Homo sapiens: one gene and its partners. The protein of the gene in region 3 interacts with the protein of the main gene of each other region in a biochemical or structural test. Each region holds a gene or a part of one and is shown on either strand. Other genes may lie near its edges. The genes, in order: CSNK1A1, FBXW11, CDC25A and NAA10.

Region 1 (7,030 bases), on a different chromosome or scaffold from region 3:
CGACATGGTGAAGCCCCATCTTTACTAAAAATACAAAAATTAGCCGGGTGAGGTGGTGCTCACCTTTAATCCCAGCGACTCGGGAGGCTGAGGCAGGAGAATCTCTTGAACCTGGGAAGCGGAGGTTGCAGTCAGCTGAGATCCCCCCAGTGCACTCCAACCTGGGTGACAATGAGGCTCTGTCTCAAAAGAGAAAAACAAAGAATTCAAGTAATCTGCCAGGTGCAATGGCTCACACCTATAATCCTAGCACTTTGGGAGGCCGATGGGGGTGGATCACCTGAGGCCAGGAGCTCGAGACCAGCCTGGCCAACATGGTGAAACCCCGTCTCTGCTACAAATACAAAAATTAGCTGGGTATGGTGGCAGGCGCCTGTAATCCCAGCTACTCAGGAGGCCGAGGCAGGAGAATTGCTTGAACCTGCGAGACGGAGGTTGCAGTGAGCCGAGATTGCACCACTGCACTCCAGCCTGGGCAACAAGAGCAAAACATGGTCTCAAAAAAAAAAAGAGAGAATTCAGGTAATCTTTTAACCCCAGAAAAGTGTCTTCCCCAGGTACCAGTCAGACATCTTATTCCCAAACTTCCAGTTGAATATTTACTCTTACTTGTTTTTAGGAAGTACCTCCTCTTATGAGTATTCCCCTAGATAACTGACAGCTTGATTTCATGTTTCAGTTTTCATGCTGCCTTTTTCATCTATAATAAGAAATATTTTAGAAGCTGCCACACTTGAGGAAATATTCGTTGTGTAAAGAAATGCTGTCACTGTCTTAAAAAGTTAGTAGGTTATATAACTGGACTCTGTTATTAAAGGATTAACATAAAATATTTTATGTGTTCCAGGACCCTGAACCATCAATATGACTACACATTTGATTGGACAATGTTAAAGCAGAAAGCAGCACAGCAGGCAGCCTCTTCCAGTGGGCAGGGTCAGCAGGCCCAAACCCCCACAGGCAAGCAAACTGACAAAACCAAGAGTAACATGAAAGGTTAGTAGCCAAGAACCAAGTGACGTTACAGGGAAAAAATTGAATACAAAATTGGGTAATTCATTTCTAACAGTGTTAGATCAAGGAGGTGGTTTTAAAATACATAAAAATTTGGCTCTGCGTTAAAAAAAAAAAGACGTCCTTGGAAAATTTGACTACTAACTTTAAACCCAAATGTCCTTGTTCATATATATGTATATGTATTTGTATATACATATATGTGTGTATATTTATATCATTTCTCTTGGGATTTTGGGTCATTTTTTTAACAACTGCATCTTTTTTACTCATTCATTAACCCCCTTTCCAAAAATTTGGTGTTGGGAATATAATATAATCAATCAATCCAAAATCCTAGACCTAACACTTGTTGATTTCTAATAATGAATTTGGTTAGCCATATTTTGACTTTATTTCAGACTAACAATGTTAAGATTTTTTATTTTGCATGTTAATGCTTTAGCATTTAAAATGGAAAATTGTGAACATGTTGTAATTTCAAGAGGTGAGTTTGGCATTACCCCCAAAGTGTCTATCTTCTCAGTTGCAGAGCATCTCATTTTCTCTCTTAAATGCTCAAATAAATGCAAAGCTCAGCACATCTTTTCTAGTCACAAAAATAATTCTTTTATTTGCAGTTTACGTATGATCTTAATTTCAAAACGATTTCTTTGTTTTTGGCTTGATTTTTCACAATGTTGCAAATATCAGGCTCCCAGGGTTTAATGTGGAATTGAAGTCTGCAGCCAGGCCTTGCAAATTGAAGGTAACTGGGGCAAATGCCATTGAAACCGCTAGTCTTATTTCCTTTCTACTTTTCTTTGGCACTCTTACTGCCTGTAAGGAGTAGAACTGTTAGGGCACACTGTTGCTATACAGTTTAACTCCCATTTTCATGTTTTGTCTTTCTTTTCCCATTTCTGGGGCTTACCTCCTGATACCTGCTTACTTTCTGGAAGTAGTGGGCAAGTAAGATTTGGCTCTTGGTTTCTAATTTTTAAATTTCTGAATACTGCCCTAGTCTGAACTTGGCCTTTATAGATTAATCTTTGCTTCACATTTTTAGTGTTGTATTTAAACTATTTTATAATTTAAAAATAGATTCTAATCTGAAGATACTTTTCAAGAAATATTATTAACTGATGTCATCCTCATCCCAGCAGCTCATCTGTTAGGAATGAAGTTGAGATGCTTCTATTCCATGTTTTTGTATTTGGGAAGGATTCAAAGTTGAAGGTTTATTGTCGTTGGGTTTTTCAGATGGTGACATGTAAACTCAGGATAGCAAACCCTAATGTTCACACAGTGCTCTGCCTCTGCATCTCAGTTGGGATAGTTGCTCCTTTTGAGTGTTTTAATCATCGTATAACTAATCATAGTGCCAAGAAGTTCATAATGTGTTATGTAGCTAATGTCACTGAAAAACAGTCCTACCATTTTAGGTAAGACCAAACAGAGTCTCTAACCCAAGGACTTGTTACACCTGACAACCTATAGTATATTTGCTTTTTCTCACAAAATGAAACCAATTTTGCCGAAAGCTAGCTGGGATAATAGGATCATCACAAGTTGCAGTTTCTATAACTAAAATTAGATTGAAATCTCTTCTGACCTAGAACATTTTACTTCAGGCATTCAGCAGATTTCAGAAAGAATTACCTTATTTTAAGTTAGTTTCTTTGTTAGTTTACTGTGTGTCTCTTATTCAATAAACAAGCAGAATTTGTGTCCTGCCCTATCCATGTCTTAAAGATGAGAAGTTGGATCCACTGAGTTAGTTTCATTGGGGCGGGGGAAAGAACTGTAATTAAACTTGTTTAATCCTTATTTTGTATTGTAGCTATTTTTTGTAAAAGCAACTTAAAATCTTTTAAAAATTTTATAGTGACATTAGAGACAATGGTCATACAAATTATCACATAAACATGGACTTGAAAAATTAGGCTTTTCATAAAACACATCACATGTCATTGACTGCTTTTTAGAAATACACTTCCAAGGCAGTACATCTGTATTGCTACTGAAAAGTGCCATTTCACAGAACACAGACTTCTTTTTGCTCTTTGACATCTTGAAAACATCTGTTTTTCTTTTTTAATACAAAACTTTGTGCTCAAGACAAATCTTACATGAAACTCTCATAAACCATGAAAATGTAGCTGGCCTTCGGGCCTTAGGCATGAAATAAGCATGAGGAACATATTCCCCTAACTTCTACCCCCAGCCCAGCAAGTTATCCTTTAAGAAATCTCCTAGGAATTCTGGAGTTTGAAAACAATTGCTCTATGTTATTCCTGCTTCCAGTCTCTAAGTAACAAGGGCATTTAAAAGCATAGTCTCTTAAGGTCCACTATAGTGGTTCTTTATTTAAGGAATAACTCAGCTGGGTGCAGTGGCTCACGCCTGTTATCCCAGCACTTTGAGAGGCTGAGGCAAGCAGATCACTTGAGGCCAGGAGTTCGAGAGTCTGGCCAACATGGTGGAAACCCATCTCTACAAAAAATACAAAAATTAGCCAGGTGTGGTGGCGTGCACCTATGGTCCCAGCTATTTGGGAGGCTGAGGCAGGAGAATTGCTTGAACCTGGGAGGTGGAGGTTGCAGTGAGCCAAGATTGTGCCGCTGCACTCCAGCCTGGGTGACAGAGTGAGACTCTGTCTCAAAAAAAAAAAAAAAAGGAACTCATACAGCTCAATGATTCATTGATCCCAATAATAAATCGTTTTAATAATGATGAAAACATCCTACTGGGGTTTTCTTGTTAAAAACTTTAGGACAGGCGCAGTGGCTCATGCCTGTTATTCCAACACATTTGGGAGGCTGAGGTGGGAGAATTGCTTGACCCTAGGAGTTCTAGACTTGCCTGGGCCACATAGTAAGACCCTGTCCCAGCTCCCTCCAACATCGTCCCCAACCCCCCCCCCCCCAAAAAAAAAAAGCGCCAGGCGCAGTAGTGAGTGCCTGTGATCCCAGCTGTGTTGGGAGGCTGAGGTGGGAGTATCACCTGAGCCCTGGAGGTTGAGGCTGCAATGAGAGCTGTGATCATGCCACTGCACTCCAGCCTGGGCAACAGATGAGACCCTGTGTCACAACAAGGAATTTTTAGAAGGTGCTTTTTATATTACTCTTCACAGAGTTAAATTTTCAGAGGATTTAGTATTATTGAACTAAGTTTCATAAGTGTATTTTAAGCAAGTAAATCTCTAATGTAGGAAAATCCCCAAAATGGTAGCATTTACTAATGTTTTATATGGTAATTTTTGAAAAATATATCTGATATTTCTTCAGTAAAAATGGTGTTGTTTTAATAACTTAATAAGAATGTTTAAAGATTCTTTAAGTCTGGCTTATCTAGCTAATGTGGGCCTATTAAATAATAGGCAGACTTCTGCCTTCCTTATATTCTTTAGATCTTTTCAAATACTCCATTCCAATATCCATCAAAAGACTTCTCTTTATGCCACTTATTATCTATACTAGTTTTTAATGTTCAATTACTACAAGATTATAATTACTGTTTTTATTCATGTTCCCAAGAAAAATACATAAGATTCACACCCAACACACTTCGAAATTTATTTCACTCCCTTTGACTATATGTGATTATCAAAAAAGTATTTTTCAAGATATTAAAAATAAGTAAAGGAAAATGAAATATTTTTAGGACATTCAAAATCTAATGAAGTTCAGTGTTTCTTTAATTGAGGGCAGGCAGAGGTGGGGGAGAATTTCAGAAGGTAGTGAACCCAAAGGTGGATTCTTGGATAATTCTACTATTCTGTACTCTCATCATCTTAACCCATCTGTTTACTACCCTAACCATAGTTACTAAGCAGAGTTTTATCATAATAATATAGACAGCTCTCAAAGTATTGACATTCAGAGGGGATTACAAATATTATTTTTCTATCATATTGACCTACCATGTCCACAGTCTTCCTTGAATTACCTTCCAGTTTTACTGGGCTGCATCTACCGTTTATGTCTAGTTTGACTTTTTCTGAGTTCACCAATTGCTGCTAGGAATGTGCTGGTCACTCAGCAGCACACCCACATCACAGGGGAAGATTTTGAAATACCTGGACAGTCTGAACACACTGCTCTGAATACACTCAATTCTAAGAAGTACCAGGGAACCGCATCTTCTTGCTGAAATCTTGAATTTTTGTCAGCTTTTTTTTTTACTGTGGACAGTAAAGCTGGAAAGATCTAAATAACCCAACAGGAAATGCGGATGAAAGTGCAAGAGTTGGTTTGTGGTCATCTGGAGTCCATGTCTCCAAGACTGCTGGACCTTCAAATTCTGCAACTTGTTAGATCATCTGGATGATAGCACAACTGTTAGAAGACCTAGAAGAATACAGCGTTGCTATGACTCAGTGGTGTTGAATGCAGACCATCTACCAGCTGGGGAAAGAATCAATTATAAACAGGTATTTTAAAACTCCAGAACGTCAGAAATGTGTAGCAGAATGAATTCTGTTATAAGGAAGACAAAACAATTCAGTCTGTTTTTTAATGCAGTTTAGGAATAGTGTATACCTCCTATACTTAAAATTGTCATTTATCTTTCCCAACTTTAAATACTCTTTTAGTTTCTATAGGGAAGGAAGAGTTATTACAGGTTTTTTTTTTTTAATTATTCTTTAACTTTAGATACTGCCAATCTGATTTAAAATTCTCCAAGCTTAATTCTGTGCAACAAACAGAACCACACAAGCAGCCAGGCACTGTGGCTCACTCCTATAATCCCAGCATTTTTGAGGCTAGATGGGAAGATCACTTGATCTCAGGATTTTGAGAACCATCCGGACAACATAGGGAGACCTCATCGCTATTTTAAATAATTTTAAAAAGAAAAGAAAAAAAAAGGCCGGGTGCGGTGGCTCGCTTCTGTAATCCCAGCACTTTGGGAGGCTGAGGCGGGCAGATCGTGAGGTCAGGAGATTGAGACCATCCTGGCTGACACAGTGAAACCCTGTCTTTACTAAAAATACAAAAAAGTAGCTGGGGCCGGGCGCGGTGGCTCATGCCTGTAATCCCAGCAGTTTGGGAGGCCGAGGCGGGCGGATCACAAGGTCAGGATATCCAGACCATCTTGGCTAACATGGTGAAACCCCGTCTGTACTAAAAATACAAAAAATTAGCCGGGCGTGGTGGCGGGCGCCTATAGTCCCAGCTACTTGGGAGGCTGAGGCAGGAGAATGGCGTGAACCCAGGAGGCGGAGCTTGCAGTGAGCCAAGATCGCGCCACTGCACTCCAGCCTGGGCGACAGAGCAAGACTCCATCTCAAAAAAAAAAAAAAAAAAAATTAGCTGGGCGTAGTGGCGGGTGCCTGTAGTCCCAGCTACTTGAGAGGCTGAGGCAGGAGAATGGCGTGAACCCAGGAGACGGAGCTTGTAGTGGGCGGAGATCGCGCCATTGTACTCCAGCCTGGGTGACAGAGCGAGACTCCGTCTCAAAAAAAAAAAAAAAAAAAGAAAAAAAGAAAAAAAACCCCACAACCATGTTATAGGAAAAGTTAGTATAAATGACATAGCATAATTAATATATTCAAAATAACTTTTAAAAAGTTGTCTTGTAGCTTGAAGGGATCCTAAATATCAAAAGCCCATCACAAACTTACAAGCCTTACTGCTACGTAAATATCCCTTTGAACTAGTTTCTGGTTCTATTTAAAAAGTCGAAAACTGTTGAAATTAATTTACGAATAAGAACAGATACACACTTTGTGGGGAGGCTGAGGTGGTAGGATCTCCTGAGCCCAGGAGTTTTAAGTCCAGCCTGGGCAACATAACAGCAAGACCCCATCTCAAAAAAAAAAAAGCATATCTTTTGTTTATTTTTTTAATAGACAAAGTCTCACTATGTTGCCCAGGTTTATTTGGAACTCCTGGCTTTAAGTGATCTTCCTGCCTCAGCCTCCCAAAGTGTTAGCATTATAGATGTGAGCCACCTCGTCTGGGCCAGAGCATACATTTTAGATTTCAGATTGGGTGGCGGGCAGGGATAGAATATCCTTGTTAGTTATATA
Region 2 (7,829 bases), on a different chromosome or scaffold from region 3:
GCTGAATCCTATAGAGTGGGTCAGGAGGAGAAGCAACCTGGGTGGACCCAGGCCTCAGGCAGCGGTAGGAGTCAAAGTGGGGGTTATATTTTAGAAATTTAACTATTCTGCTATCACCAGCTTTATTTCCTAATATACTTATCAAAAATGCAAGGAAAAACAGAAGAATCAATATTAAGGAAAGTACAGGGATGAAGATTAGAAAATGGAGATAACCAAGAAGTCTGTTTCCTCTTTTTAATACAGCACACTTTGGAACAGCAAATGAAAGTTATCTTGTTAAGCATTAAGTGCCAAACTGGTACAAGCAGCACAATCACAAATATTTGAGTACTGAAGCTGACTCATAAAAATCTAAAAATATTTCATGCTTTAGGCTTTCAAAACACCATCAGTTTAACCCCTTTTCCTCCATCAATCGTATTATCTTGAAACCAATGTAAAAAATATTTTTAACCCAGTTCTGGAAACTGTAATTGAAATGCAGTGAAAACAGAAAGCCACATGCAATTAGATTCTAAGGCATTATTTCCTACATTTGATCCTGGATTTACTCAATCAGTTGTTAAGCACCTGTGCTACTTTACTAAAATAAATACACATATTTAATTTATGATAAGGGTTGTCTAAGAGTCTTAACTGATATCCCTTTCAGGAAATATCAAAATCCTTAAATAAAAGGCCATTTTAAAATTAATCGTAATATAACTAAACTCTGTTAAATTTTCAAAGAATTCCAGTTTAAATCCCAGTTTATAATGTCCTTAACAGGCTGAAATCTCTTTTCTGATCAAAACCAAGTGCTATCATGTAAAATCAAAACTTTTTAAGTTATAAGCATAGGAAGCCAGTGAATTTAGGCCAAAGGTTTTTATTTTTTTATTTTGTAACCATACACTGACTTGGGTTACAACGTATTTCTTATAATTCTTTTGAAAATAAATACATTTTCGTTATTTTTTAAAGGAATAGAAATGGAAGGAGCTGGGAACAGCCAATTTCAAAGAGGCACCAAGTTACAATTTTTCGATATGAAGTACTTCTGTTGTAAGTACATGCACTGTGTGTACATTCTTAAGAATATGTAATATACTTAGTCGATTTAAGATAGTTACCAAAATAACCCACTACAAAAGTTACAGAATACCAAACACTTGACTACAAGTATGATAAATTATGCTGAAAAGGAAAAATCACTCAGTATGTGACATCCCTTTGAAAACAACCCCACGTGCACACACACACACACACACACACACGCATGCAAAAATCAAAAACTATCAGTTTCTTTTTTTCCCTCCTAGTTTTCAAGAATGCTAGAGAAGTCCAGTTCTGTGAATTATGCAAAGGACAGCAAACATTAAGCTGCCTCCATATTTATGCTACTGTACTTCCATTTTTAAAACAAGCATCTCAACTCCCCAGACACCATCATCCACAGAAACCATGCAGCTATCCAACAGACTTTCAGTGTCACCATTTATTATTTATAGCGTTAAATGGGGGAAGTGGCTCTGATGTCACCAACCCTACCCAGTGGAATCACTGACTCAATAAACATTTTCACACTGAAGAAAATCTGGCTAGGAAAACATTTTGCTGGGTTAAGTAGATTCTTCCACCTCTCCTCTCAACCCTGGGGAAGAAGTTGTTACCGTGTTAGGAAAGATACAAAGAAACTGTCAAGGCTTCCATAGGAAGAAATCCTGGACATGTCCATTTGCTGATGCAGACTTCCTCTTCCCAGCTCTCCAGAGCCCAATTTGATTTCCCTCATGTTCACGTTGGCAGGTAATATCTGCCATATTTTATTTCTTCCACCAAATCATCCATCAATTAGCAAATTCTTCACTTCTAGCCACTCTCTCACTGTCCTGTTCCTAAAAACCCCTTCTGGTTTCAAATCCTAAAGCTTCGGAGGAGGGTGGAGGGTGTCCACGGACCGGGAGTCTGGCCTGGCTGCCAGTGGTTTCTAACAGAAGAGTGGTCGCTTCCCCCGGGGGCCAAGGATTCCCCTCTTTTTTTTTTCTTTCTGAGAAGAAAGACCTCGCGGCAGTGATGAGGATGGCTCCCTCCCCAGTCATCTCCAATTTCCCAAAGCAGCTCTGGAAAACGTGAAGTTGCGCCTTCTCTTTCCTGGAGGATGGAATCCAGAGTACCTGGGCCCTTGCTATGCAAACATCCCTCTCCGCCGGGTAGGAAACCCTTTGTCCGAGAAGCCGGACACCACAAGGGCCCGGGAAAGAGGCCTCCTTATCCGCCACAGCCTCAAACCCGAAAGCTCCCTGCCCCCCCAGCTCTGTAGGGCCTATCCTGGCATCCACACAGACCTAGGCTGGGGAGTGGGTGCTGAGACCTCTCCTAGGACGCGGAGGCCCAGGCGGCCCCAACCCATCTCCGTACTCCTTCCCACCATCTCACTCGGCCTGAGTGGGGCTTGCAAGCGCGGTGCGGGCCTGGGCCGAAACAGAGGAAAGAAAAAAAAATCCCTTTCTAAAAGAAGGAGAATGGGGTGCTAGAGCGAGTGCGACCTAAGTCTACAGCATAAACGAGCGAGGGTCGTCCGAGAGCTGGGACCGGAGACGGGACCAGGGGGAGGGGGAGAAGCGAGGGGCATGGAGGGGGCCGGGCCAGGACCGGCCGGAGATGTCGAGGGATCAGAGGAGCCCGCGCCAGGTCCGAGGCCAGGGAAGGCTGGGGGCCCGGGTCTGGGTCGAGGCGTCTGGGAAGGGCCAGAGCCGGCCTCGCACCGGACGTTGAGGTGGGCAGGCCCGCCCGGGGCCGGACGGACGGAAGCACAGACGGTCCAGCGGGCCGCACTCACCATGAGCTCGATGGTCTTGTCCTCAATCACCGAGTCGGGCTCCATGGCGGCCCCGGCGGCCCCGCCTCGCTCTCCCCGCGCAGCAGCGAACGGCCCGGGCGGAGGAGGCGACGGCGGAGGCGGCAGAGGCGGAGGCGGCTATCGCACCCACTCTAGCTGCCAGCCCGCCCGGGCCGCCGGCAGCTCCGCCCTCCCCCTCGGCGAACGCAGTACGCAGATCGGGGACTACACCTCCCAGCAGGCGCCGCGGCCCGCAGAGCGTTGTGGGACCGAGCCTCTGACACCAGGTTGCTGGCTCTTGGCAGCCCGAAGCTGAACTCCGAGCTGAGAGTAGCACTGGACGGTGGGCGTAGGACGTGCAGACCTGAAGAGTTAAGAGCTTGCTCATGGCAGGGCCTCGAGAGCGCCACGACTACGTGTCCCAGAAAGCCGTGCGCCCGGGTTGTCCTTCCGGCTAGCTTCTCTTGACTTCCTGGCAGCCCAAGGCTGCCCAGACCGGGACGGAAACTCCGAGGCAACTCCTCACTTGTCGGAGGTCCTGCGTATGCGACCCATTTCCGCACATGCGCGGTCCATGCCGCAGTGCTCCCTAGACGCCTAGGTAGCTGCGCGGCCCGTCCGGCAGTGTCTGATGGTAGGGGCAGATGGTGGAGACAGGTGGGTTCTAGGTGCGTTAGGAAGGTGTATAGACCTGGGGCTCAGGTGTGGGAAGGGGCCAGCGAGTGAGAGAAGCTCGGCCTGGGGAAGAGGCTCTGAGAGGATGGGCATCCCAGGAGTGAGAGTTTCGAGATTTCTTCGGGAAAGACGGGGTTTTGGGAAATGTGCTGTGGTGCTGTCTGTATGTCACACGATCTGCGAGGAGCTGCGAGATTAAAGGGGACGTGCGTATATCGAGCCCCTCATTCATTCGTTCAGAAAATGGTTATTTTTTAAGCATCCAGCTTCCGCTGCGTACCGTTCTAGGCGCTGAGAATCAGCTCTGAACATGACAGACAAGGCTCCTGTTCTCATGGAGCTTAATTCTGGTGGAGGGACGACAGACACTAACCAAAAGAGTGGCTAAGAAGGAACACACAAGCGGAGACTCCTTCTAGTGAACTCAGCCTCCAACTCTGTGTAACTTAGGTCTGTCCGTGCCCTCTAACCAAATCCCACCAGGAAGACACGGATCGTTGAACAAGCTGGGTTTATTACTAGTTGCAGTGACTGAGAACACACATTGAGGAACGATAGGGCCTCTCGGTAAGAGTTGTTAGTGATTTGGGAGAGGGTTTAAGGAAGTGAGAGCTTCACTGGATTAGATACTGTCAGGAAGAGAGGGTCGTTCCATGATTGAGCATCTCAGTTCATCTTATCTAGAGGAAGGGAATTCTAGATTGAGGCTAAAGCTGTGCAGATAAAGAAACAGCAGCCTGGCCGGGCGCAGTGGCTCACGCCTGTAATCCCAGCACTTTGGTAAACCGAGGCAGGCGAATTGCTTGAGCGCAGGAGTTCCAGACCAGCCTGGGCAACATGGCGAAACTCTTCTCTACAAAAAATACAAAAATGAACCGGGCCTGGTGGTGCGCGCCTGTCATCTCAGTTACTTGGGAGGCAGAGGTGGGACGATCGCTTGAGCCCAGGAAGTGGAGGTTTCAGTGAATGGAGATCGCACCACTCCACTGTACCCTGAGTGATAGAGCCAGACCTTGTCTCAAAAACGAAAAAAAAAAAAAAAAGTGCAGCAGCAGCTCCCTCATATTAGCCAAGTGGGGATGTTGAGTCATTTTTTGTGGTTTGGACAATCATCAGGTTTTATCTTTTTATCGTGTTTAGACCTGATTATAGAGTGGTCTTGTATTTGTCTGGATCTATCATGGTCACAGAATGACCTCGTCTGATGTTGATGTTCTTTGGAATTGTTTTTGTTCTACAGGAAAACACAAAGCCTAGCTATAAGGGCCAGGCTGTGGTCTAGTAACATCATGGCATGGCTGATTGTACCAGGCCAGCTTCCAGATATCAGAGGCTGCTTTTCACTTTCTCAAAGTGTTTTTGCATTCTCTGCACCTATAAAGTCAAAGAGGCTGGATGACCTAGAAATCTTTCCATTACCAAGGACCAAGTTACAGTAATTTGCATGCATTCAGGACACAGTATAAGTTCCCTGCAGGTAGACTTTGAAGTTTCATAGTCCTTACCTGGTGCTTTTCACCAAGGGAATTGAAAGAAAAGCAATAGGAAGAGCACAGAATTGGAAAGTTCTTACCACTGTCATGCTATCTGAATTTCACCAGGTCCGTTCCACTATGGCCCTTAGGACATTCATTAGTAAAACAAAGGGATTAGATATGACCTCTATTTCAGTTACCTGTTGCAACACAACAAACCTCCGAAGACTTAGTAGCTTAGAATAACAATGGTTTATTATGATTTTACAATTGTGTGGGCTGACCCGGGCTCAGCCGGGGCCCACATGCAATCAGCTGGGAACTCATTCAAAATGACTTTTCATCTTCTAGGGCCTCTCCTCCCTGTGGCTTTTTATCATTCAAACGTCTGCATAGTGACTTGAGAAAGGACAAGCCCCAGTGAACAAATGCTTATCAAACCTCTGGTATGCACCACACTTGGTAATGTCCCGTTGGCCAAAACTAGTAGTATGGCCACACCCATAGTCAGTGTGGGAAAGGATTGTACAGGGGCATAAAAACAGGCATGGGGTAGGAGTCACAAGCTGGATGTGACCCTCCCCCCGCCGACCCGGCACATACATATGTTTGTCCTATACCGTCTTTTTTACTGTTTTTAAAATTTGATGTTCAGGTTTTCAAAATCTGAATTTCCAGCTTTTCTTGAAAAATTAGAATATCTGACAATTAGATCTACATGGCAACAATATGCAGGGGTTAAATAGCAACTACCTTTATTTAAGCATATATTCTATGGTTTTCCACAGTTGCCATCACTCCTTTTTGCCTTGTATCTGCATGCTTCACTCATTTAAGTTGCATCCCTAACCTGTATAGATATTTGAGTTTGCATCCCCTGGCATTGGAACTGTAGTGGAGATAAATCAAGGTTTCTGTCCTTTTATTAAAATCGTATACCTGGGAGCATAGGGAGGGGCTACCATCTCTGTGGCTGCACCATGATCTACAAAAAAAAAAAAAGAAAATTGTATGCTGCCTTAAAAGGAAAAAAGTACTAATATTATTAGGTCAAATTCCAGGAGCTCAGTGGGGTTAAAAGCTCATACATAGGAATTAGCCAAGTATGATGGCTCACGCTTGTGGCTGCAACTACTCAGGAGGCTGAGGTGGGAGGATCACTTGAGCCTGAGAGGTCAAGGGTGCAGTGAGCCATGATTGCACCACTGTATTCCAGCCTGGGTGACAGAATGACCAGCTTGGGTACCAGACCAGCTTGGGTGACAGAACAAGACCCTGTCTCAAAACAACAACAATAAATAAATAAATAAACACTATATATATGATAAAAGAAGTCTTATCCAAGCTACGTAAGAGGCAAGCTGAGCCAAGGCTTTATCACCTTGCTCTCACCTCTTCTCAAACAAGAACTCAGGTGCTCTTATTGCTTCAGGCTTGATGGCAGCTGTTGATTAGATTTGGTCATAGACAAAGGCAGAACACCCTGAGGCATATTTTCCCACCGTGTTTCAGATAGCTCTTCACTGAGGTTTGCAAGACATGATCATAACAAAGTGGTACAGGTCGTGATTCCCCTGAGGTCCAGTTCAGAACCCAGAATTGCTTAGATTGTACAAAGGCACAATGGTGCATTACATAAACTGTACAATGTAACACTCCTTCTGGGGTCTCAGGACAGCACTCCGTAATCAAATACCTTCTTCTGCAGCAGAACATGTATGTGCCTGCCATCAATTTATAACCTCATAGCTCCAAATCTAACCTTCTTTTCTATGCTTTGAAATACTGGAGCAGGATCCTGTAAATACTTCTCTGCCAGCTGGCACAGTGTTTAACTTTGTCAGTAGAGAGCACTAGAGGAACACAGCAGAATGAAGGGGCTTCTCATCCTGGTTCCAGTGTACTTTCTTTTCCTTCTTGCTTTGTGGCACATGGCAGCAAATGGCTTATAGAACCATCCCTTCCTCCCCACACACAAAGGGGGCTGGGACATTCAGAGGGTGGTGGCTTCCCGGTGAGTTTAGTGGCACCTCAGTAGGCAATTTCCTGTAACTATATATATATATATATATATATATATATATATATATATATATATATACACACATACATATATATAATATATACATATATATATGTATGTGTATATATATTTATATTTTTATATATTTATATATTTATATTTATATATTTATATATATTTATATTTATATATTTTTATATATTTATATTTTATATATTATATTTATATTTATATATGGAGTCTCGCCCTGTCACCCAGGCGGGAGTGCAGTGGCCGTGACCTGAGCTCACTGCAACCTCCGCCTCCCGGGTTCAAGCAATTCTCCTGCCTCAGCCTCCTGAGTAGCTGGGATTACAGGCGTGCTCCATCAAGTCTGGATAATTTTTTGTATCTTTAGTAGAGACAAGGTTTCACCATGTTGGCCAGGCTGGTCTTGAACTCCTGACCTCGTGACCTACCTGCCTCGGCCTCCCAAAGTGCTGGGAATACAGGCCTGAGCCACCGTGCCCAGGCTTTTTTTTGTTTCTTTTTCTGAGACAGAGTCTAACTCTGTTGCTCAGGCTGGAGTGCAGTGGCGCAATCTTGGCTTACTGCAACCTCCGTCTCCCAGGTTCAAGAGATTCTCCTGCCTCAGCTGCCCATAAGTAGCTGGGATTACAGGTGCGTGCCACCACACCCAGCTAATTTTGGGGGTTGTTTGTTTGTTGAGACAGAGTTTTGCTCTTGTTGCCCAGGCTGGAGTGCAATGGCACAATCTCGGCTCACTGCAACCTCCACCTCCTGGGTTCAAGCAATTCACCTGCCTCAGCCTCCCAAGTAGCTGGGATTACAG
Region 3 (7,030 bases):
AGATGAAATCTCACTCTATCACCCAGGCTGGAGTGCAGTGGCGTGATCTCTGCTCACTGCAACCTCCATTTCCCGGGTTCAAGCGATTCTCCTGCCTCAGCCTCCTGAGCAGCTGGGATTACAGGCTCATACCACCACACCCAGCTATTTTTTGTATTTTCAGTAGAGACAGGGTTTCACCATATTGGCCAGGCTGGTATGGAACTCCTGACCTCGTGATCCACCCGCCTTGTCCTCCCAAAGTGCTGGGATTACAGGAGTGAACCACAGCACTCAGCCAGAATATTATTAAATATTGATAGATATTTTCTGACATGTATACAATGTAAAGTTTCACAAATGTTCTTGCCCTTATAACCCAGAATTTCATTTTTAATTAGAAATAAAAGGAAAATCAGGGGAAGGGAAATTCTAAATGTCCAGAAGGTGATTTATTCAATTATTTCTAGTATACTTGTAAGTCAAAACACTATCGGCCAGGTGCACTGGCCTGTGCCTGTAGTCCCAGATACTTTGGAGGCTGAGGTGGGAGGACTGCTTGAGCCCAGGAATTCAAGGCCAGCCTGGGCAACACAGTAAGACCTCTTTTCTACAAAAAATAAAAAAAAATTTTTTTTAAATTAACTGGGCATGGTGGTGCATGCCTGTAGTCCCAGCTGCTAGGGGGGCTGAGGCGGGAGGAGTGCTTGAGCCCATGGAGGCTGTACTGAGCTGTGATCGTGCTAGTGCACTCCAGCCTGAGTGACAGCGCTAGACCCTGTGCCCCCCACAAACAAAAAGAACAAAAACCAAAACCAAACAACTCTCCCAAAACAAAAATACTATGCAATTATTAAAATATTCTTTTAGAACAATACTTTAAAAACATTCATAAAGCATTAAAAACAAAAGCAGATACGATAAGGCAGTAGGCCTAAATGCTAAATGTTTTCCTAGCTGTCATCTCTCTAACCTTTTAAGACTGTGATGAGATTTACTTAAACCTTTTCATGCCACAGAAAACACAGGTAGTTCACCATTTTATAATGCTTAATACCAAACCTCAATATAAGGACAGTATAATGAAGGAAAAACATACAAATAAACCAGTGTTTTGTGTGTCTAGCCACAGAATAAATAGAAAAAATAACACAAAGGACCATAGGACTTAGGCCCAGACAACCATGACACTAGCTCACCCATGCCAGGTGCTGTGTCTAACACCTATGATCCTGGCACTTTGGGAGGCCAAGGCGGGAGGATTGCCCTGAGCCCAGGAGTTTGAGACCAGCCTGCGCAACATGGCGAAAGCCTGTCTCTACAAAAAATACAAAAATTAGCTGGGTTTGGTGGCACACACCTATAGTCCCAGCTGCTTGAGAGCCTGAGGTGGGAGGACTGCTTGAGCCTGGGAGGTGGAGAGTGCAGTGAGCGGAGATCATGCCACTGCACTCCAGCCTGGGTGACAGAGAGACCCTGTCTCAGAAACAGGAAACAACAAAACAGCCTATACAACTATGAGCAATGCAATGAATTAACTTGAAGAATTAGACAGACAGGGCTGGGCGCAGTGGCTCACGCCTGTAATTCCAGCACTTTAGGAGGCTGAGGCGGGCGGATCACAAGGTCAGGAGATGGAGACCATCCTAGCTAACACTGTGAAACCCCGTCTCTACTAAAAATACAAAAAATTAGCCAGGCGTGGTGGCGGGGTCCTGTAGTCCCAGCTACTGGGAGGCTGAAGCAGGAGAATGGCATGAACCCGGGAGGCAGAGCTTGCAGTGAGCTGAGATCGCGCCACTGCACTCCAGCCTGGGCGACAGAGCGTCTCAAAAAAAAAAAAAAAAAAGACAGACCTTTATAAAAATCAAGTATTTAATAGGCCATGATAGGTCTGGATTAAAAGGAAATAAAATATCTACAACAAATGATAATAAAAACATTTCAGGTCAAAAGTTATGAGACAAATCTAAAGCAGTGGGAAATTCATAGATTCAAATAGATTTATCCAGAAATAAGAAAATTAAAAACGAATGAGTTAACCATTCAACTCATGAAGCTGGAGACAGCAACACAACAAGCCCCAAGAAAAGCCTGCTCTCCCTAGGCAAAGGATGGCCTATTGAGGCAGAAGACTTTTAGACAATAATCATTCTACTAGTCAACACAGAAACAATTATGGCCAACAGCAAGCGGGGGCCTCCACCTTTGCCCAGCTGTCATACAGTGCCCCAGTCACCACCCCACGGGGATGGAATGAACTTCCACTCCCTCCCAGCAATAATGAGACAAGTCCCCACCCAAGGTGTCAATGGAGTTTGTGCTGGGGAACCCGGACTTCCACCCATGCCTTTCTTGCAGTATCAGAGGAAGCCTGCTAAAACGTAAAATTTACATAGACCGGAGACTCACAAATATACAGGAGACAATGGAAGAATCACCGGTCATACCAAGAACCAGAAAAATCCCAACTTGAACAGGAAAAGACAATCAACAGATGCCAACAACACTATGGATGGATGTTGGATTTGTCTTACAAAGATTTTAAAGCAGCCATCTTAAAAATGCTTCAACAGGCAATTATGAACATACTCAAAGCAAATGAAAAACCAACATGAAAACAGCCAAGTATCAGCCAGGTGTGGTGGCTCACACTTGTAATCCCAGTGCTTTGGGAGGCCAAGGCAGGAGGATCACTTGAGGCTAGGAGTTCAGGACCAGCGTGGGCAACATCGCTAGATCCCATCTCTATTAAAAGAAACACACACACACCCACACACACACACAACCCCACAAAACCCCAGCAAATCTTAGCAAAGAAAATAAATGAACCACTAAGTAGAAATTTTTAGAACTGAAAAATACAGTATCTGTGCTAGAGCAAAAAGGAACCTAGGAAACTAACCTCATGGGCCTTCTCTGGATTAGTTGACTCTTTGGGGCTGGCCCCAGACATGCTCTTCCTCCTCTTTGTACTTCCAGGTGGAGACTCCTCTTGAGATCGTTCTGGTCTCTTCAACACTGACCGAGTGCTGGAGCTACACAGGGAAGGGGAGTCAAACAGCTTGCATCGGTTGTCCTTACAGGAAAAAAAACAGACAGACCCATCTTTCATTAAAACCTGTTCACTTGAATGGTAAGACAAATAAACCGAAGGTTTCCTGGGATGATCTAAGATCAATTCTAAATTAGCCAACAGACACTGCCGATTCATCTAGTCCTAGCAACTCTCACAGGGCCTGGCACATAGTAGGCACTGAGCACTTAGTGCTCAATGAATATATACTCAGCTGACATTATATAGAGATGAGCAAAACGTCCTTTGCCCTCACAAAAACTGTCTACATAATCCTGCGTCAAGAGAAGTGTGACCTTCCAGTCAGGAACACATTTTTGGCTTGCCTATCTTCCCCTCCATTTTATTACTTGCACCTTGCTTAATTAAGCAGGTCAACGGGTTTAAATACCCCACTTAAATCCAGAAAAGATGCACAGTAGCCAGGTTATAATAAAAATGGGGGCATCTTTGGTTAAGGTATAGTTAAGATGGTAAATTTGGAGGGAGTGGGGATGGGCAGAGTAGCAAATGCCTTTCAAAATTGTGTTCAAAGTCTTTTTTTCTACTTGGTCTTTTAAAGACTAATTTCCCAGGCTGGGCGCGGTGGCTCACGCCTGTAATCCCAACACTGTGGGATCACTTGAGGTCACAAGTTCAATAACAGCCTGGCCAACATGAAGAAACCCCATCTCTATTAAAAATACAAAAAAATTAGCCAGGTGTGGTGGTGCGTGCCTTTAATCCCAGCTACCCAGGAGGCTGAGGCACGAGAATCACTTGAAACCAGGAGGTGGTGGTTGCAGTGAGCTAAGATTTGCACCACTGCACTCCAGCCTGGGTGACAGAGCAAGACTCTGTCTCAATAAATAAATAAATAAATAAAGACAAATTTTCCAGAGCCCAAGGGAAGCCAATCTGACCAGTGGTAGCAAGAGTCAGCTCTCTAAACGCATCTCAGCCTATTCTCGACTCCATGTGTCTTGGCCTGGCTTTTCCTTCTGCACAGAATGTCCTTTCACATCTCAGTAAACCATTCATTTTCAAGTTGATGCTAACATTTCAATGTCACTTCTTTGAAATCTTCCTGATAGTCCCCAGTAGAATGGATCACTCCCACATCTGCTCCCATAGAGACCGGGGATTTTCTTCCTCTTTTGTGTGAAGTTTATTTTCCATTACAGCTCCCAGCAATGGTTAGTTTGTAATAACCATTTGTGGAAGACATTTCCCCACTATTAAGAGCTTACAAGCCCATGCTTATGACTCTAAAATCAAATCTATAAAACTAACAGCCACTTCCAAAGTGTTCTCACATTTTATGTAATTTTATGCCTATCAAAATGACCTGGTAAATTTACTCATAACATTTGTACTGCGTTAACATATTTTCTCAAAAGCTATGCACATGAATGTACTATAATCCATAAGTGATCTCAAAACTGTAGCTTGGCTGGGCACGGTGGCTCATGCCTGTAATCCCAGCACTTTGGGAGGCAGGTGGATGGATCACCTGAGGTCAAGAGTTCGAGACCAGCCTGGCCAACATAGTGAAACCTCGTCTCTACTAAAAATACCAAAAAAATTAGCCGGGAGTGGTGGCGTAAGCCTGTAGTCCCAGCTACTCAGAAGGCTGAGCCAGAAGAAGCACTTGAACCCAGGAGGCAGAGGTTGCAGCAAGTCAAGACTACACCACTGCACTGCACCCCAGCCTGGGCAACAGAGGGAGACTCTGTCTCAAAAACAAAACAAAACAAACAAACAAAAAAACTGTAGCTCATTTGTTCTGTAATTATAGTTCAGGTTATTGAGAATTAAAAAATATGAACTTATCAATTTAGATGTGTACCTAAGGGTGTATATCTCTGAACATACAGGTGTATATATCTGTATAGGCACATTCTTGCTTCTAACTTTGAAAGTATCCCTATGATGAAAACACGAATCTATAGCATGTGTATGTGTGTGTATATATATGTGATTTTGAATATATATACACACATACACTATAGATTCTGTATCTACATATACTATGCTTTCTGTTTGAAAGTATCCCTGATGGAAACACAAATCTATACTGTGTATGTGTGTGTGTGAGTATATATATATATATATATATATATATAAAATATATATTATATATAATTTTTAAAATCGAAAATATCTACCTGAAAATACCCAGCCTCAGGTAGGTATTTTCAATGAAAAACAAAACAAAACAAAACAAACAAACAAAACAGCAACAAAAAACATCCAGCCAGGCACAGTGGCTCATGCCTGTAATCCCAGCACTTTGGGAGGTCGAGGTGGGCAGATCACCTGAGGTCAGGAGATCGAGACTAGCCTGGCCAACATAATGTAACCCCGTCTCTACTGAAAATACAAAGATTAGCTGGGTGTGGTGGCAGGCACCTGTAATCCCAGCTACTCGGGAGGCTGAGGCAGGAGAATCACTTGAACCTGGGAGGCAGAGGTTGCAGTGAGCCAAGATTGTGCCACTGCACTCTAGAATGGGCAACAAGAGCGAGACTCCGTCTCAAAAAAAAAAACAAAAAACACAGAAACAAAAAAAATCCTGTGAGTTACTGTTGCTTGTCTAATTTTATGCTAGGTTCTGTGGAATATAAATGAGAATAACCTAAAAAAAGTAAAGTATTCAGGCTAAAGGCTTCAGATAGGCTTTTTTCAAACTGACTAGATGGTAAAAGCTAGGAATGACCATGGTCCCTCCTAACCCACACTCCTTATACATCAGGAGACATGCAGAGAGATATCATGACTAAAGGTCATAATTTGTAGGTAGCCAAAGTGAGGCCTAAAACCCAGATCCCCAAATCCTATCATGCATTTCAATCTTTGGCTATACTCAACTAAGGACTACTCTGTCCAGTGCCCCAATCACGCAGGGCTTCCTCCAGACACACTAGAACAACTCACAAGGTTTGTAGTTCTCATGACGAGAGGAGCTGTCCAGAGGCTTGCCATGCACGAGGGGGTCTCCTCCTCATTCTAAAGAAACAGAAAAACTGATTTTAAAAAGAGCCTGTAGAGACTAACATTTGTTTAAGTGCTTTAGGTGTGTTTCTCCCTGAACAATACCAGATAGGCCTGGATAGGAAGTATCCTTAATGTACCATCCTATACCGTTCTGATTTCATGTTTCTTGCATATAGATTGTTAGTTAGCTCCTTCAGGGTAAGAAGGATCATGTGTCTTCTTTTGATGCCCCCATCCCCCAATCCAAAGGATTTAATAAGGCTGGTAGCCCTATTATTAAATGAATTATCACCAAATGAACAAAAATATCAGCTAAGCAAGCCCCGGGGAACTGCTGTTGCTGTTCTTTTTCACATCACATGCCTTCTCCAGAGGTAATTAATTAGTAGAACAAATAGGAACACACACACACACACACGGTACCTTCAGATTCTCTCCATCGAGAAGGTCCACGAAGCCATCATCCTCATCAGACAAAGTGGCTGTCACAGGTGACTGGGGTGTAAAAAGAGGAATGAAATTCCCTGGTTCACTGCTATCTCTTTCATTTGAGGAAAGCTGTAAGACAAAATTCATGGATTAATAATGAGAGCTCTGATCCACTTTCATTTCCTTGAATGGGTCACTAGTTTTTATGATGAAAACATACTATGTTATACTTGTTATACAAAGCAAAATTTTAGCCATTACTGATTATATGAAAATGTATCCCAAGATTATAAATGATTTGATGACCACACACAGCCCTGAGTAGTCAGTAGCCTTTACAGAGAACTCTTGCCAGAAGCAATTCACCTTATAATGGGTACTAGAGATAGCCTCTTGTGAAGAACAAGGTTTCTTTTATTAGAAGGTTGCATCAGTGAACACCGATCAGCATTGAGGACTGTGACAGTATGAGAATCTGCTGAAATGAGTTAGGGCAAGCAGATGCAAATCTCTATAAAGACCATAAAATGGCCTAGAGAATGCACTTATATATAACTCCAGTTCTGACAG
Region 4 (7,594 bases), on a different chromosome or scaffold from region 3:
CTGGGTCCTGGGGCTTGGAGGGGAGGGTGTTATGGGGGAAGTCTGTAGGGAACAGGGCAGAAGCTGGGACAGCAGAGGAAGCTGTAGCTGTCATCCCAGCCAGTGAGGGCTGGCCCAGGTGGGAGCTGGTGGGGACAGAGGGTTCACAGTCTGGTGGAGCAGCAGTGGGATTCCTGAGTCTCCAGTTCAGACGGAGAGATCTGGACTCACCATGAATGTTTTCAGTATCACAAGAATGTAGATGCTGCCTGGCACAGTGGCTCATGTCTATAATCCTAGCACTTTGGCAGGCTGAGACGGGAGGATCGCTTGAACCGAGGACTTCAAAACCAGTCTGGGCAACATAACGAGACCTGGTCTCTACAAAAAATTTTAAAAAATTAGCTGGGTGTCATGCACACCTGTAGTCCTAGCTACTCAGGAGGCTGAGGCAGGAGGACTGCTTAAGCCCAGTTTGAGGCTGCAATGAGTTATGATCACACCACTGCACTCCAGCCTGGGCTGGGCAACAGAGCGAGACTATGTCTCAAAAAAAAAAGGCCGGGCACGGTGGCTCACGCCTGTAATCCCAGCACTTTGGGAGACTGAGGCAGGTGGATCACCTGAGGTCAGGAGTTCAAGACCAGCCTGGCCAACATGGTGAAACCCCATCTCTACTAAAAATACAAAAATTAGCCAAGCGTGGTGGTGGGTGCCTGTAATCCCAGCTACTTGGGAGGCAGAGGCAGGAGAATCGCTTGAACCCAGGAGGCAGAGGTTGCAGTGAGCCGAGATCGCACCATTGCACTCCAGCCTGGGGGACAAGAGCAAGACTTGGTCTCAAAAAAAAAAAAAACAAAAAAAAAAAAACAGTACAGATGCTGCTGAGATCTATGAGGCAAAAAGGGAAATGGGGGCCCAGCAAAGGAGACAAGAATCAGTGGTGACGCAGGAAGAAAACCAAGCCAGGGGCTCCCTGAAGCCCAAGTGCTAGGAGCAGAGTGATAAGCTGTCTTGACTGCTGCCCAGGAGGCAACTCGAGCTGCTGAACACAGGAAAGGGCATGGCACCCAGTGGAAAGGGCATGGCACCCAGTGGAAAGGGCATGGCACCCAGTGGTGGCAAGGCCTGGGTGGTGAATGAATGAAGATTCATCATGCGTTTCTAAAGCCACGACTCCGACTCCACTGGTGAACCCTGGTACTGCGAGGACTATAGCAGGGGATCTTATTCTGGGGTCTGTGAGCTTCGAAACCGGGGGCGGAGAATCACATCTTTATTTGTACTAACCTCTAACTGAAACTAGCATTTGCTGCCATTATGAGTGGAGGCAATGAACCACATTGGTAATAGAAGTGCCTGGCTTTGTCACCGATAGAAATCCAGATGTGTTTACATTGCATTGCAGTTAGAGAGACATCTGCAAGTATCACATATATTCGTCACTACTTCCAAAGCAGCAGGGTTGTTAGACCTGCAGCTATATCTTAATATTTAATGCATTCATAGAGTGTGTGTTAGGGGCCACCAGTTCTAACTCAAAAATGAAATTGAAGGAATACATTTTAATAAGATATAGATGACATTAAACAATTACAAAAGTTATAATCAACAGGTAAATCGGCTGGGCATGGTGGCTCATGCCTGTAATCTCAGCACTTTGGGAGACTGAGGCGGGTGGATCACCTGAGGTCAGGAGTTCTGGACCAGCCTGGTCAACATGGCGAAACCCCGTCTCTACTAAAAATACAAAAATTGGGCTGGTCGCGGTGGCTCACGCCTGCCATTCCAGCACTTTGAAAGGCCGAGGCAGGTGGATCACTTGAGGTCAGGAGTTCGAGAACAGCCTGGCTGACATGGTGAAACCCCCATCTCTATTAAAAATACAAAAAATTAGCCGGGTGTGGTGGCGGGTGCCTGTAATCCCAACTACTGGGGAGACTGAGGCAGGAGAATCACTTGAACCCGGGAAGCACTCCAGCCTGGGCAACAGGAGCAAAACTCCATTAAAAAAAATAAAAAATAAAAAAAATAAATAAATAAATTAGCCGGGCTTGGTGGCGGGTGCCTGTAATCCCAGCTACTCAGGAGGCTGAAGCAGGAGAATCACTGGAACCTGGGAGGTGAAGGTTGCAGTGAGCTGGGATCACGCCACTGCACTCCATCCAGTCTGGGTGACAAGAGCGAAACTCCGTCTTAAAAAAACAAAAACCAAAAAACTAACCAACAAACAAAAAAACAGGTAAGTCATTATGCATCAACCAACATAACAGAATACAGAAGGCAAAAATCCAGACATTGAAGGAAATTCTTCTTTACCTTCCTGTGTCATGTCAAGCAGTCAAAAAATAAGTAAGGACTTGAACAATGTAACTCAAAAGACAGAATGAATACACACAGAACTAGTTTTTATTTATTTATTTATTTATTTATTTATTTATTTATTTATTTATTTTTGAGACAGGGTCTCTATCGCCCAGGCTGAGTGCAGTGGCACAATCATGGCTCAGTGCAGCCTCAACCTCCTGGGCTCAAGCGATCCTTCCACCTCAGCCACCCAGGTAGCTGGGACTACAGCTGTGTGCCATCACGCCCAGCTAATTCTTTAATTTTTTTTTTGTATAGATGGGGTCTCACTATGTTTCCCAGCCTGGTCTTAAACTCCTGGCCTCAAGTGATCCTCCCGCCTCGGCCTCTCAAAGTGCTGGGATTATAGGCGTGAGCCACTGTGCCCAGCCCAGGACTAGTTTTACTTCCTACAAAGAAGAATACACCAACTCTTATGGGCCACCATTTAAAGAGACATTTTCATAGTGGACTTCAATGTAATTGAGTCCATGATCCTTTTGAGAAGGGGCTGAACTGACAAGCCTCCCTGAGACAGGTGCCCCATGGAATGCTAGTGGAGAGAGAAGGAAAGAGAGTGGAATGGGCACTGGGCAGGGGCAGAGGGAGGAGGAGATGAGTTTGGGACCAATGGTGAGCCAGGACAGGAGTCAGATGAGATTGTGCATCTACTGGAAGACAGGCCTGTGAAGCCGGGAATGGGAGCTCCAAGGGAGTCACTTCTTAAGAGTTTCATGACAGGTCGTCGCCTCCATCAGGGTTCTTTGTTTCTTTTCTTTTCCTTTTTTTTTTTTTTTTTTTGAGACGGAGTCTGGCTCTGTTGCCCAGGCTGGAGTGCAGTGGCGCGATCTTGGCTCACTGCAAGCTCCGCCTCCCGGGTTCACGCCATTCTCCTGCCTCAGCCTCCCGAGTAGCTGGGACTACAGGTGCCCGCCACCACTCCCGGCTAATTTTTTGTATTTTAGTAGAGACGGGATTTCACTGTGTTAGCCAGGATGGTCTCGATCTCCTGACCTTGTGATCCGCCCGCCTCGGCCTCCCAAAGTGCTGGGATTACAGGTGTGAGCCTTTGCACCCGGCCGGGTTCTTTGTTTCTTTGAATCAACGTAACCACGACTACAATCACAATAGAGAACTTTTTTGTTTGTTTGTTTGTTCGTTTGTTTGTTTGTTTGAGATGGAGTCTCGCTCTGTCACCCAGGCTGGAGCGCAATGGCGTGATCTCAGCTCACTGCAACCTCCGCCTCCTGTGTTCAAGCTATTCTCCCGCCTCAGCCTCCCGAGTATACTGCTGGGATTACAAGTGCGTGCCACCACGTCCGGCTAATTTTGTATTTTTAGTAGAGATGAGGTTTCACCATGTTGTCCAGGCTGATCTTGAACTCCTGACCTCAGGTGATCCGCCCGCCTCGGCCTCCGAAAGTGCTGGGATTACAGGCGCAAGCCACAGCTCCCGGCCCGATAGACAACGTTTCTACACCCCAGGGCAGAGTTCTTTCATTCCATCTAGCAGTGTCTCATCCCCTTGCCCAGTCGGTTATATAGTTGTAGCCTGCCTGCTGCGCCCACCCCTGCTTTCATCTTTGTGGAGGACGCAGTGTCGCGGTTAAGATCGCTGGTTCTGGAGCCACGTCACCTGGGGTCAACCCAGGCTCTGACCCCTGGTAGCGATGCAGTGGCATCTGGGCGGGTCCTGCAGGCGCTAGCTGTCACTGTCTCTGTTATTCCAGTTTCGCGATCCCGAGTACGGGGAATGGTTTGGCTACCTGAGCCGAGAGGGCAAGGTGGCCCTCTCCATCAAGGGAGGTCCTTTCAAAGGTGAGTGGGGGAGAGGGCGGGGCCGCAGGGGTTGCGCCTCTCGGCTGCCCCCGGCCCTCACTACCTGCCCGCCTCTACCCGCAGGCTGCTTCCACGTGCCGCGGTGCCTAGCCATGTGCGAGGAGATGCTGGGCGCCCTGCTGAGCCGCCCCGCCCCCGCCCCCTCCCCCGCCCCCACCCCCGCCTGCCGAGGCGCGGAATAAAGGCTGAGTCCGCTCCACCTGCGGCTGTGCGCGCGTCTGTGGGCTCGCGGGAGGGGGGCTGTCGCGCCGAGGGAGGGGCCGGCTCCAGCTCCGGGGCAGCGCCCGCCCCGCCCCCAGGCCCGCCCCGCGCTGACCGGCTCCGCGCATTGGCCCGCCCCGTGCGCTGGCCTGTCCCGCGCATTGGCCAAGCGGCCGGGAGGACGGGCCCGGCGGCCGTGCACTTCCGGCCGGTGGCCGGCCCGGCGCGCACCGCCCCTTCCGCCGTCGCCCAGCGAGCCCAGCTCCGGTCCCAGCCCCGGCCGTCCCGGCGTCGCTTCGGAGCGCGGCGGCAGCTGACTGCGCCTTCACGATCCGCTGGGACCCGCGAGCCCCGCCGCCGTTATGAACATCCGCAATGCGAGGGTGAGCGCCCGGGGCGGGAGGCTGTCCGCGCCGCGTGGGCGCCGGGCCGGGTGGCTGCCGCGCATGCTCCCGAGGGCCCCGGCCGAGCCCGGCCCGGTGGCCCTGAGTGTGCCTGCGGCCGCTGGACCTATGGGGCTGGCCCAGCCCGCCGAAGAGGCCGGGGCGCGGGGCCGGGGCTGCGATTCCCTCCTGTTTGCGTGATGTCGGGCCTCCGTTGGGTGGGCTCCGGGGACCTCCGGGGCGCCCACTCCTGTTCCTGTGCTCCGGGCGTTGTGCAAAGTCAGATCGTCACAGTGCCTGCCCAGCCCCGAGGGAGCGGGGCCGAGCAGACCGACGGGGAGCAGGCTTCTCACCCGTGGTCACCGCCGCCTTAGACTGAGCGCGTTCCACTGCCCTCCTTCCCTGCAGCCAGAGGACCTAATGAACATGCAGCACTGCAACCTCCTCTGCCTGCCCGAGAACTACCAGATGAAATACTACTTCTACCATGGCCTTTCCTGGCCCCAGGTGGGCAGCTTCTGAATTTGGGCATGGGGGAAAGCAGGCCGAGGAAAATCCCATCTGGCCATCTTGGAGGGAGTGGACAAGTCTGTCAGAGCCCAGGGGGCTGTATGGTCGGTGGCGTCCTGGGTGTTTTCAGCTGGCAGACAGGGGCAAAGGAAAAGAAGGCGCCCGAAGGGAGCAGAGAATAGGGGCAGGATCCCCACTTTGCGTCTTCTTTCTGGGTATGGGCAGGGCACAGTGTGGCGAGGGGGAGACCAAGCCACTCAGCCCGGAGGTCATGAGCCATCACACAACTCGCCACTCGTCCAGTTTGTGTCCCTCTAAAGGGCTCTTCTAGCTCCGACAAGAAGTTTTCTCACTCTGTTTTCCTGTCACCAGCTCTCTTACATTGCTGAGGACGAGAATGGGAAGATTGTGGGGTATGTCCTGGCCAAAATGTGAGTCACCAAGGAGGAAGACAGAAGCTACACGTGTCTGGTGGATGCCTCTGTGGGCTTTAAAAAAAATGAATAGGCTTCTTCTTTTCAGTACAGTTGAAAGTTTATAGAAAAATTGAACAGAAAGGACATGGAGTTCTTATAGCACCCCTCAGCATCCCCTCCCTGCCAGCTTCCTCTGTTAGTAGCATGTTGGATTTGTGTGGTCCACTTGTGACAAGTGATAAATGAATGTGATATGTTACTATTATTATTATTACTATTATTATTTGAGACGGAGTCTTGCCCTGTCGCCCAGGCTGGAGTGCAGTCGCGTGATCTTGGCTCACTGCAACCTCCACCCCCTGGGTTCAAGCGATTCTCCTGCCTCAGCCTCCTTAGTAGCTGGGATTACAGGCACATGCCACCACACCTGGCTAATTTTTGTATATTTCAGTAGCAATGGGGTTTCACTACGTTGGCCAGGCTGGTCTCGAATTCCTGACCTCAGGTGTTTCCACCCACCTCTGTCTCCCAAAGTGCTAGGATTACAGGCGTGAGCCACTGCGCCTGGCCGATATATTATTATTAACTAAACCCATAGTTTACATTACTGCACTTCTCTTTGTGTTGTAAGCCCCATGGTTTTGACCAAATGACATGTGTCCACCTTCATATTATCGCAGGATAGTTTCACTGTGTTCCACGCATTCATCCCTCCCTCTCCTTAACCCGTGGCAACCACTGATTTTTTACTGTTTGCATGGTTTTGCCTTTTCCAGGATGTCACAGAGTTGGAATCATACTATATACAGCTTTTTCAGGCTGGCTTTTTTTCACTTAGTAATACACATTTAAGCTTCTGCCTTGTCTTTGCGTGGGTTGACAGCTCATTTCTTTTTTTATTTTTTGAGACAGGGTCTCGCTCTGTTGCCCAGGCTGGAGTGCAGTGGCATGATCATGGCTCACTGCAGCCTCAACCTCCCAGGCTCAAGTGATCCTCTCATGTCTGCCTCCCAAGTAGCTGGGACCACAGGCATGCGCCACCACATCCAGCTAATTTTTTGATTTTTTTTTTGTAGAGACAAAAAAAAGTGTTGTCCAGGCTGGTCTCGAACTCCTGGGCTCAAGCAGTCCTCTTGCCCCGGCCTGCCAAGTAGCTGGAACTATAGGCGTGTGCCCCACACCCGGCAGGCTTGGGGTTTTCAGGCAGCAGAGGGTGGCAGGATCGGCTGCTCTGATCCAAGAGGCTCCCGGCTCTCCCCCAGCTGGGGTCTTAGGGGGCTGTAGTGCATGTCCACTCTACAAATGGCAGGGGGGCTGGAGGTGGCTGTGCCTACACTGAGCTCCTTTGCAGCCTCTCCTTTCTCCCTCTCCAGGGAAGAGGACCCAGATGATGTGCCCCATGGACATATCACCTCATTGGTATGTAAGGTCCACCCAGGCTCTCTGGTGGGGGTGGAAGTGGGGGTTAGTTGGGGCAGCCCTCAAGGTCCCAGTCCCTCACCCCATCTCTGCTCTTCTCCCACCAGGCTGTGAAGCGTTCCCACCGGCGCCTCGGTCTGGCTCAGAAACTGATGGACCAGGCCTCTCGAGCCATGATAGAGAACTTCAATGCCAAATATGTCTCCCTGCATGTCAGGAAGAGGTGGAAGCCGGGCTGAGGGAAGGGGGATTGAGGGGGAGAGATACTGCCTTGACGGGGGTCCTGGGGTACCTCAGCTTTTGGTGAAGATCCAGGAAGTGGGATTGGGGGGAAGGAGGGACCAGGAGGAGGGGCAAGACCTGGACGTGCTACCCCTCCCTGGCCAAATCCGTGCAGCTCAGCAGTGCCTTGTTCCCCTGCAGTAACCGGGCCGCCCTGCACCTCTATTCCAACACCCTCAACTTTCAGTAAGTAGATCTCGATTTTTCTAATGGGCTGGG

Evidence for each region.
Region 1: of the proteins of CDC25A (region 3) and CSNK1A1, one has a biochemical effect on the other in vitro, tested with the Homo sapiens proteins (one study listed by BioGRID).
Region 2: the proteins of CDC25A (region 3) and FBXW11 form a complex in vitro, tested with the Homo sapiens proteins (2 studies listed by BioGRID, with this or other methods).
Region 4: the proteins of CDC25A (region 3) and NAA10 form a complex in vitro, tested with the Homo sapiens proteins (one study listed by BioGRID).

Annotation. Positions count from the first base shown.
Region 1 is NC_000005.10:149,499,413-149,506,442, reverse strand, and holds part of CSNK1A1 (casein kinase I isoform alpha), read left to right. Parts: intron 1-847; coding exon 848-996; intron 997-7,030.
Region 2 is NC_000005.10:172,003,634-172,011,462, forward strand, and holds the start of FBXW11 (F-box/WD repeat-containing protein 11), read right to left. Parts: upstream 3,006-7,829; 5' UTR 2,870-3,005; coding exon 2,825-2,869; intron 1-2,824.
Region 3 is NC_000003.12:48,171,400-48,178,429, forward strand, and holds part of CDC25A (M-phase inducer phosphatase 1), read right to left. Parts: intron 6,590-7,030; coding exon 6,455-6,589; intron 6,044-6,454; coding exon 5,972-6,043; intron 3,059-5,971; coding exon 2,885-3,058; intron 1-2,884. UniProt on the Homo sapiens protein: Tyrosine protein phosphatase which functions as a dosage-dependent inducer of mitotic progression. Directly dephosphorylates CDK1 and stimulates its kinase activity. Also dephosphorylates CDK2 in complex with cyclin-E, in vitro.
Region 4 is NC_000023.11:153,932,038-153,939,631, reverse strand, and holds the start of NAA10 (N-alpha-acetyltransferase 10), read left to right. Parts: upstream 1-4,594; 5' UTR 4,595-4,727; coding exon 4,728-4,748; intron 4,749-5,156; coding exon 5,157-5,255; intron 5,256-5,630; coding exon 5,631-5,689; intron 5,690-7,047; coding exon 7,048-7,093; intron 7,094-7,200; coding exon 7,201-7,316; intron 7,317-7,516; coding exon 7,517-7,561; intron 7,562-7,594. Other genes in the region: RENBP (N-acylglucosamine 2-epimerase), read left to right, coding at 4,056-4,143, 4,228-4,346. UniProt on the Homo sapiens protein: Catalytic subunit of N-terminal acetyltransferase complexes which display alpha (N-terminal) acetyltransferase activity. Acetylates amino termini that are devoid of initiator methionine.